Linked DNA regions of Homo sapiens: regions 2 and 3 are each linked to region 1. The links come from fine-mapping of genetic effects on gene expression. A gene starts in region 1. Each other region holds a variant in brackets. All regions are shown on one strand. Distances are between the middles of the regions.

What was found. PIP is the estimated chance that this variant, and not a neighbour inherited with it, causes the effect.
Region 2: its variant is fine-mapped to the expression of INIP in whole blood (TOPMed, PIP above 0.99). The same link has a PIP of 0.9 or more in fibroblasts, lung, lymphoblastoid cells and monocytes after interferon gamma.
Region 3: its variant is fine-mapped to the expression of INIP in blood mononuclear cells (TOPMed, PIP above 0.99). The same link has a PIP of 0.9 or more in whole blood.

Annotation. Positions count from the first base shown.
Region 1 is chr9:112,716,668-112,719,431 of GRCh38, forward strand. It overlaps INIP (INTS3 and NABP interacting protein), which reads right to left and starts at 1,450. Exons shown (of 5, transcript NM_021218.3): 1 at 1,320-1,450. RefSeq lists an enhancer at 1,032-1,131 and a silencer at 1,502-1,661.
Region 2 is chr9:112,682,681-112,685,444 of GRCh38, forward strand. INIP (INTS3 and NABP interacting protein) reads right to left here. Exons shown (of 5, transcript NM_021218.3): 5 at 1,246-2,764. Among named protein-coding and RNA genes, the nearest start is that of INIP, 34 kb to the right of the region's middle. The variant T/TCATA (reference allele first, on the strand shown) is at 1,288.
Region 3 is chr9:112,738,208-112,740,971 of GRCh38, forward strand. No RefSeq gene overlaps it. Among named protein-coding and RNA genes, the nearest start is that of SNX30-DT, 11 kb to the right of the region's middle. The variant A/G (reference allele first, on the strand shown) is at 1,278.

The DNA of each region.
Region 1 (2,764 bases):
CGGGCGCGGTGGCTCACGCCTGTAATCCCAGCACTTTGGGAGGCCGAGGCGGGCGGATCACGAGGTCAGCAGATCGAGACCATCCTGGCTAACATGGTGAAACCCAGTCTCTACTAAAAATAAAATTAAAAAAAAAAATCAGCCGGGTGTGGTGGCAAGCGCCTGCAGTCCCAGCTACTCGGGAGGGCGAGACGGGAGAATCACTTGAACCCGGGTGGCGGAGGTTGCAGTGAGCCGAGATCGCGCCACTGCACTCCAGTTTGGGCCACAGAGCGAGACAGCGAGACTCGGTCTCAAAAAAAAAAAAAAAGAAAAGAAAGAAAGATACATTTGAAATGTACACAGACTGAAACAAATGTAAACTCTGCTAGTGCCTCAAGCATTTAATTAAATACGGCATTGTTTATTCTTGCAGATGTTCATACCATTTAGCATTACTGTCTTTAATAAACGTCATTAGGTTGTATTTACCAAATATATCAACCAATTGATAGAGTCAATATAATCATGGTGCTAGGAAGAAAAATCATTCATCTATGGTGTCTCTGCATTCGTCTAAAACACATACCCAAAAACTACTGTGTACACTGAAAGCTAAAAAAGGTAAAGGAGTACTGTATCTGCTCTGCACCATACACTGTGTAACATGCTCGAAATTAGTTCCTTTATTTATTTATCACCATTTTATAGATGAGGAAACCGTACCCAGGGTCATAGAGCTAGTAGGAATTATTTGGGCTGCTGGTTTCCAAACTTCGTGCTTTCGTACTAAATCCTGGGGAGATCCAAGATGAGCAAGACCCTAATCCTGCTTTCAGAAGGGAAAATAAAGTCTTATTCAAGCAACCATACTATTAATTAAAAAAAAAAAAAGCTTAACAAACCCGCTCTTTAAAAGGTGGGCACAGTGCCGGAGGCAAAGAATTGATTTCATTGGCAGCAAAGAGTGATGCCTTAGTCTAGGGAGCCCGGGAAAGACACAAGGGATAGAAAACAGACACCGGTTTTTAGTAAATGAATCGTTAGGTGTCTCCAGCGGCTGAAACACAGAGCGAGCAATGCGGGGTTAGGACTGGAGGACAACAGGGCCATCTTGTGACAGGGTAGACTGGCGTGCCAGAAAGGTCCCTGCCTACGGATGTGCAGAGCCGGCTGGGCCCGGGCTGTGAACGAGACGAAGGAAGCAAGTAGGAGCCAGAAATGTTAGGTGGCAAGGTCGGAAGGGAGGTCGCTGCCTGTAGCAACAAAGACGGCGGCGACAGGTTAGCACCGGAGCCACACTTTTCTATTGCCCGGTGCCTCCAGACTGTCGTACTTACCTGGGACCCGAGGACACCGGGACCGCCTCTCCTTACAATCGCTGCTCTTAAAGGGGGCGCGACCACTTAGGCAAGAGGAGCTCAACTCGCGGCACTACAACCTTCCCGCCCCCGCTGCGCTTCCGCCTCCTGACTGACGTGCGCCCCAGGGAGCGGAAACCCCGCCTCCCGCCGGGACCCAACGGCCACCGCCCGTCGTGATTCGCACTTTAGCGGCCACCTCAGTGCAGACGTCACTTTTTTTTCCAAAGAGTGACAGTCGAAGAGGCTCACGGGAGATGCAAACGGTACTTTTGGGGGCTGGGCCAGGGTGGGGCGTGGCCCGGGGCGGGGGAGGGGCGGGGCTGCCAGGCAGGGGCGGGACGGAGAACACCTGGGTCCCTAGCACCAAGACTGGCTTTTTATTCATTGCCACCGCCTGGCCGGTCTTGCGACGGTGCGAGTCCACCTCGGCTGGGCCTCGGAGGAGGGGCGACTCTAGAAGCTAAACTCGCTTTCGAGCTTTAACAACCATCTCGGATTGCGCATCCGCACACACACACACACACACACACACACACACACAAATTCAGGAATATTTTTTGTCTACAGTTTACATAATTATACACAATGAAAGCACTGAATATGGAGGATTTTTATTACAGTGCAATAATCTGCATTTAAGAAGTGGATGTGCCACATCGCAGAACACCAAGTTGCCACTAGTGGGATCACCTGCTGCCCACCTGATTCCAGCACAGTAGATAGCTACACATTTGAATTAAAAGGTAATCGTATATTGACATGTGTTCAAATTGCACTCTTTTTAATTTAAAAAAATATTTTTTATGGTGACAGTGTCTCGCTTTGTTGCCCAGGCTGGTCTTGAACTCCTGGCCTCAAGGGATCTGCCCACCTCAGCCTCCCAAAGTGCTGGGATTACAGGCGTGAGCCACCTGCCCTGCTTAAAATTGCAGTGTCTTAATCTCTTCCGAAAGATACATTTGAAAAACGCACAGACTTAAATCACAAATGTAAGCTCCCCAAGCGCCTCAAGCATTTAATTAAATAGAATGGATAATGAATTTGAACATATGTTTTTAATAATTGATGTTTGCTCAAGAGTAAAATGTTTATGATGCACAATTTTCTTGTGCATGGATCAATGACTGAAATAATCGTTTCAATATCAAGTATTTATTTACTGAAAACCAAGCATGTATTTACTCTATACCAAGCAGCTATTGAGTGCCTTCTACAATGCGAGGTGCTTCCTGTGCATCAGCTCTGGTCCTGCTGTTCCCTGATTTATATTTGAGACTCATGTTTCTTGCTCTATGTCAAGTAGCGAGCTAAGATTCAAATTTAAAGATCTGCCAGATGCTAAGGCCTGAGTTCTTAAATCTCACACATTGCCTCTGCTCTGGAGGAATGAATTCCTCTGAGACCAGTTCTTGCTGACTTGA
Region 2 (2,764 bases), 34 kb before region 1:
ATCTCAGCTCACTGCAAGCTCCGCCTCCCGGGTTCCCGCATTCTCCTGCCTCAGCCTCCCGAGTAGCTGGGACTACAGGCACCCACCACCGCACCCAGCTATTTTTTTTTTTTTTTTTTTTGTATTTTTTAGTAGAGACGGGGTTTCACCGTGTTAGCCAGGATGGTCTCGATCTCCTGACCTCGTGATCTGCCCGCCTTGGCCTCCCAAAGTGCTGGGATTACAGGCGTGAGCCACCGCGCCTGGCTGAATGTTGCTCTCTTTCCTGGCTGAAACCGTCTCATCTTGAAAGCCAAGTTCCAATGCTTGTTCTGATGTAGCTTTTATTGGTCCTTTCGGGCTCCTGTCCCCATTCTCTCCTCTCCAGGCTGCTCCTAGGATTGGTTTTTAGTGTGCTTGTCTCAACCAATCTAGATTGTCAGACTCTTGAGGACAGTGACTGTCCTCCTTCTCTTCCTCATTGTCCATGTTCATTATTTGCACATTTTTAAAAAGCCTGTGGCCAGCCAGGTGCGGTGGCTCAGACCTGTAATCCCAGCACTTTGGGAGGCCGAAGCAGGTGGATCACTTAAGGCCAGGAGTTGGAGAAGCAGCCTGGCCAACATGGCAAAACCCCGTCTCTACTAAAAACATAAAAAATTAGCTGGGCGTGGTGGCGCACACCTGTAATTCCAGCTACTCAGGAGGCTGTAGCATGGGAATCACTTGAAACTGGGAGGCAGAGGTTGCAGTGAGCTGAGATGCTGCCATTGCACTCCAGTCTGGGCAACAAGAGTGAGACCCTGTTAAAAAAAAAAAAAGCCTGTGGCTGAGCATGGTGGCACACACCTATAGTCACAGCTACTTGGGAGGCTGAGGTGGGAGGATCACTTGAGCCCAGTGTCCAGCCTGGGCAACACAGTGAGACCCCATCTCTTTAAAAAAGAATCGTGGGTATCAACTGTGTAGAAGTCACCATGGATATAGAGGTGAATAAGAAAAGCACTCAGCAAATACTTGTTGCATTTATTGCTGTTGAAATGGGACTTGTGCTCGCTGATGGGATTCCAATAGAGGGGTTCAACTGCACTAATGAATTGATACTCTCTCTCATTATCTTCTATTCTCCATGTAACCATATTTTCCAAATCCTTTGCCTCAAGAGGCTTTAAACACATGTAAAGGCTGAGGTTCTGTTGCCGAAGTGAAGCAAATAACTGAGACAACTTAATGAGACAGTTTATAGATTGTTCAGGAAAACAAATATGCCTTTGAAATCACTAAGTCATTTCAGTTTTTATTCCAGGG[T/TCATA]CAAAGCACTGACATCTGCATTATTTAGAAGCGGCTTTCAAAACTTTTTTTGCCATAACTCACAGTAAAAAAAAATACATTTTATATTGCAACTCAAGTCTATAAATTCTTTCATTCCTTCAACATATTGAACACCTACTATATGCCAAATATATTTTATGTGGAATACAGTAGTGAACGAAGTAAAAGAGGAAGAAAGGAAAGGAGGAAGAGAAAGAAATAAACAAAAATTCTTGCTCTCTAAGACTTTACATACTAGTGGAACAGACAATAGACAAAATAAGTAAGCCAGATGCAGTGGCTCACACCTGTAATCTCAGCACTTTAGGAGGCCAAGGTGGGAGGATCGAGAGGACTGCTTGAGGCCAAGAGTTCAAGACCAGCCTGGGCAACATAGCAAGATGCTGTCTCTACAAAAATTAAAAAAAAAAAAAAATTAGCTGGGCATGGTGGCATGTGCCTGTAGTCTCAGCTACTTGGGAGGCTAAGGGTTGAGGATTGCTTGAGCCCAGGGATTCAAGGAGTCTTGCAGTGAGCTATGATTATACCACTGCACTCCAGCCTGGATGACAGAGCAGGACTGTCTCTTAAAAAACCAACACAATACAAAGTAAAATATAGGAACACACAGAAACAGAATATTCATGAGGCAAAACCACCTATTTCTATATGCAGTACACTCAGATGTTTTTGATTTTTTCGGAAAAAATGCTGGTCAATCCTGTTAAACCATTAAGTTGGCTTCTCAACTCAGTAATGGGTTGAGGCTTTTGCACTTTGAAAAACACTAGTCTAGACAATTTCTGACATGGGCAGAGCATGTGCTTGTTCTCACCTTATGGAGGGAGGAACATACAAAGATATTAACTGAGTTCCTCAAATTCACCCATGATCTGAGGGAAGCAATGCTGACCTCCACCTGAGGGCTTCCCAGTCCACTGCTGCCCTTTCCCTCACCCTCTGCAGTGCCTGCTCTTCTCCTCTCATTCTGAAACCTTGCTCTGCACGTGGAGCAGCTCTTCCTTCCCTTGTCAGGTAAAAATCACATGAATACTTCTAAGCCTAGCCAGACCGCACTGCGTTCCAGGATGCCTCTCTCAGGCCACTACTGCATTCTGGCTCGCTTGATTGATTGATTTAGAGACAGGGTCTCACTCTGTTGCCAAGTTGTGCAATCATGGCCCACTGCAGCCTCAACCTCCCAGGCTCAAGCAATCCTCCCACCTCAGCCTCCCGAGTGGCTGGGACTCTATGCATGCACCAGCACACCTAGCCAATCTTTTTTTTTTTTTTTTAATTTTTTAGTAGAGACAGGGGTCTCACTATGTTGCCTAGGCTGTGGCTTGCTTTATAACTATTGGTGTACCAGAATAGGATCCTCTGCACGGTGACCTCCTAAAAGAGCAGGTACCAGTCACCTTTGTGTCCCCCAAAGCACAGTACTTTATCTGTAGGTATTAATAAATACATAGGAAAT
Region 3 (2,764 bases), 22 kb after region 1:
CACACCATTCTCCCGCCTCAGCCTCCCAAGTAGCTGGGACTACAGGCACCTGCCACCACACCTGGCTAATTTTTTGTATTTTCAGTAGGGATGGGGTTTCACCGTGTTAGCCAGGATGATCTCGATCTCCTGACCTTGTGATCTGCCTGCCTCAGCCTCCCAAAGTGCTGGGATTACAGGCGTGAGCCACTGTGCCTGGGCCTAGATTTTTTTTTTCTTTCTTTCTTTTAGGTGGAACTTACCTGAAACAGAATAAGAATTCCTGGGTTTGTAGGCCAAAAATCTGTAACAGTACTATAAATAGCAAGAATGTCCGGTGGTAAGCCTGCTGAGGTATCAGGGGGCATTTTCGTACATTACCAACAACAAATTTGAAGTTGAAAAAAAGTTTTGTAAACTACTAATAATAAAAAAGCAAAGCAAATTTCAATCAGCCATGCTAGAAGAAAGACTTCATTATCTTTCTATTCTCTTTGGAATACTATAAAATAGTTGTCATATGAAGAATTTAGTAAAGAATATGCATTCAAAGACTATGGAAAATAGTATGATAGAGGTGTGCCAGGCAGCTAATAATTTTAATACGTTTGTGATGTTTGCGGTATTTATCAGTTTTGTAAAATTTATAATTGTGGCGATTTATTTTCCAAATTAATATTCAGCTTTGTATCAGGGTTTTTTGTTTGTTTGTTTCTTTGTTTTTTGAGATAGGGTCTCTCTCTGCCTCCCAAGCTGGAGTGCAGTGGCATGATCATAGCTCACTGTAGCCTTGAACTCCTGGGTCAAGTCATCCTCCCACTTCAGCCTCCTGAGTAGATGGAACTACAGGTGTGCATCACCATGCCCAGCTAATTTTTAAAATTTTTCGTAAAGACAAGGTCTCATTATATTGCCCACGCTGGTCTCCAACTCTTGGGCTCAAGCAATCCTCCTGCCTCGGCCTATGAAAGTGCTGGGATTACAGATATGAGCCACAGTGCCTGGCCTTGTACTAATTTTTATATTTGAAATTTTGAATTCTTTTTCTTGAGGAAGGCCCCCCAAATTGTTTAAATCTCATAAAGCATGATTCCTTACCTTTTATTGGTCTTTTAACATTTGCTGGTAGGACAAGCAAAAATTGTATCTTTTTGTTTTCATCAACATTTTATTGATCTCTAGTGAGACTGAATACATATTTTGATAATTTGTATTTTTTGGGCCGGGCGCGGTGGCTCACGCCTGTAATCCCAGCACTTTGGGAGGCCAAGGCGGGCGGATCACGAGGTCAGGAGATC[A/G]AGACCATCCTGGCTAACACGGTGAAACCCCGTCTCTACTAAAAATACAAAAAAAAAATTAGCCGGGCGTGATGGCGGGTGCCTGTAGTCCCAGCTACTCAGGAGGCTGAGGCAGGAGAATGGTGTGAACCCGGGAGGTGGAGCTTGCAGTGAGCCGAGATCGCACCACTGCACTCCAGCCTGGGCGACAGAGCGAGACTCCGTCTCAAAAAAAAAAAAGAAAGATATTAATACCTTGTGAGTCATTTGTGTTCCAAATAACTTTCTCCAGATTATCATTCATCTTTTCTTGTAACAGCTTTATTGATGTCTAATTCATTATGCCATATCGGGGAGGGGAGTAACTTTACAGTGGAGAAACCTGGCAAACACTACCTTGACCAGGCAATTAAGTTTAACACCCTCAGTGATAAGCCATGTTGACAGTATGTGCCCTTGATATGATGATCTAGTTTGGATGTTTGTCCCCTCCAATCTCATATTGAAATGTGATCCCCAGTGTTGGAGGTGGCGCCTTGTTGGAGGTGTTTGGGTCATGGGGGTGGATCCCTTATGAATGGCTTGGTACTTTCCCCATGGTAATGAGTGAGTTCTCACTCTGTTAGTTCACAAGACAGGTGGTTGTTGTTGTTGTTTTTGAGACAGGGTCTCACTCTGTCACCCAGGCAGGAGTGCAGTGGTGCAATCTCAGCTCACTGCAGCCTCCACTTCCTGGGTTCAAATGATTCTCATGCCTCAGCCTCCTGAGTAGCTGGGATTACAGGCATGCACCACCACGCCCAGCTAATTTTTGTATTTTTAGTAGAGATGAGGTTTCACCATGTTGGCCAGGCTGGTCTCCAACTCCTGGCCTCAGGTGATCTGCCTGCCTTGGCCTCCGAAAGTATTGGGATTACAGGCATGAGCCACCACACCTGGCAAGAGAGCTGGTTGTTTAAATGAGCCTGGGACCTCCTCCTCTCTCTTGCTTCCTCTCTTGCCACGTAATAGGCTGGCTTCTCCTTTGCCTTCTGTCATGACTTTATAAGCTTCCTGAGGCCTCACTAGAAGCAGATGTTGGCACTGTGCTTCTTGTACAGCCTGCAAACTGTGAGCCAAATAAACCTCTTTTCTTTATAAATTATCCAGTCTCAAGTATTCCTTTACAGCAATGCAACACAGATTAACATATATGATGTGATTAGAATGGCACTTTACTGGCCGGGTGTGGTGGCTCACACCTGGAATCCCAGCACTTTGGGAGGCCGAGGCAGGTGGAGCACCTGAGGTCAGGAGTTTGAGACCAGCCTGGCCAACATAGTGAAACTCCATCTCTACTAAAAATACAAATAATTAGCCAGGCATGGTGGTGCATGCCTGTAATCCCAGCTACTCTGGAGGCCAAGGCAGGAGAATTGCTTGAGCCCGGGAGGTGGAGGTTGCAGTGAGCCGAGATTGTGCCATTGCACTCCAGCCTGGGCAACAAGAGCAAAACTCCATCTCAAAAA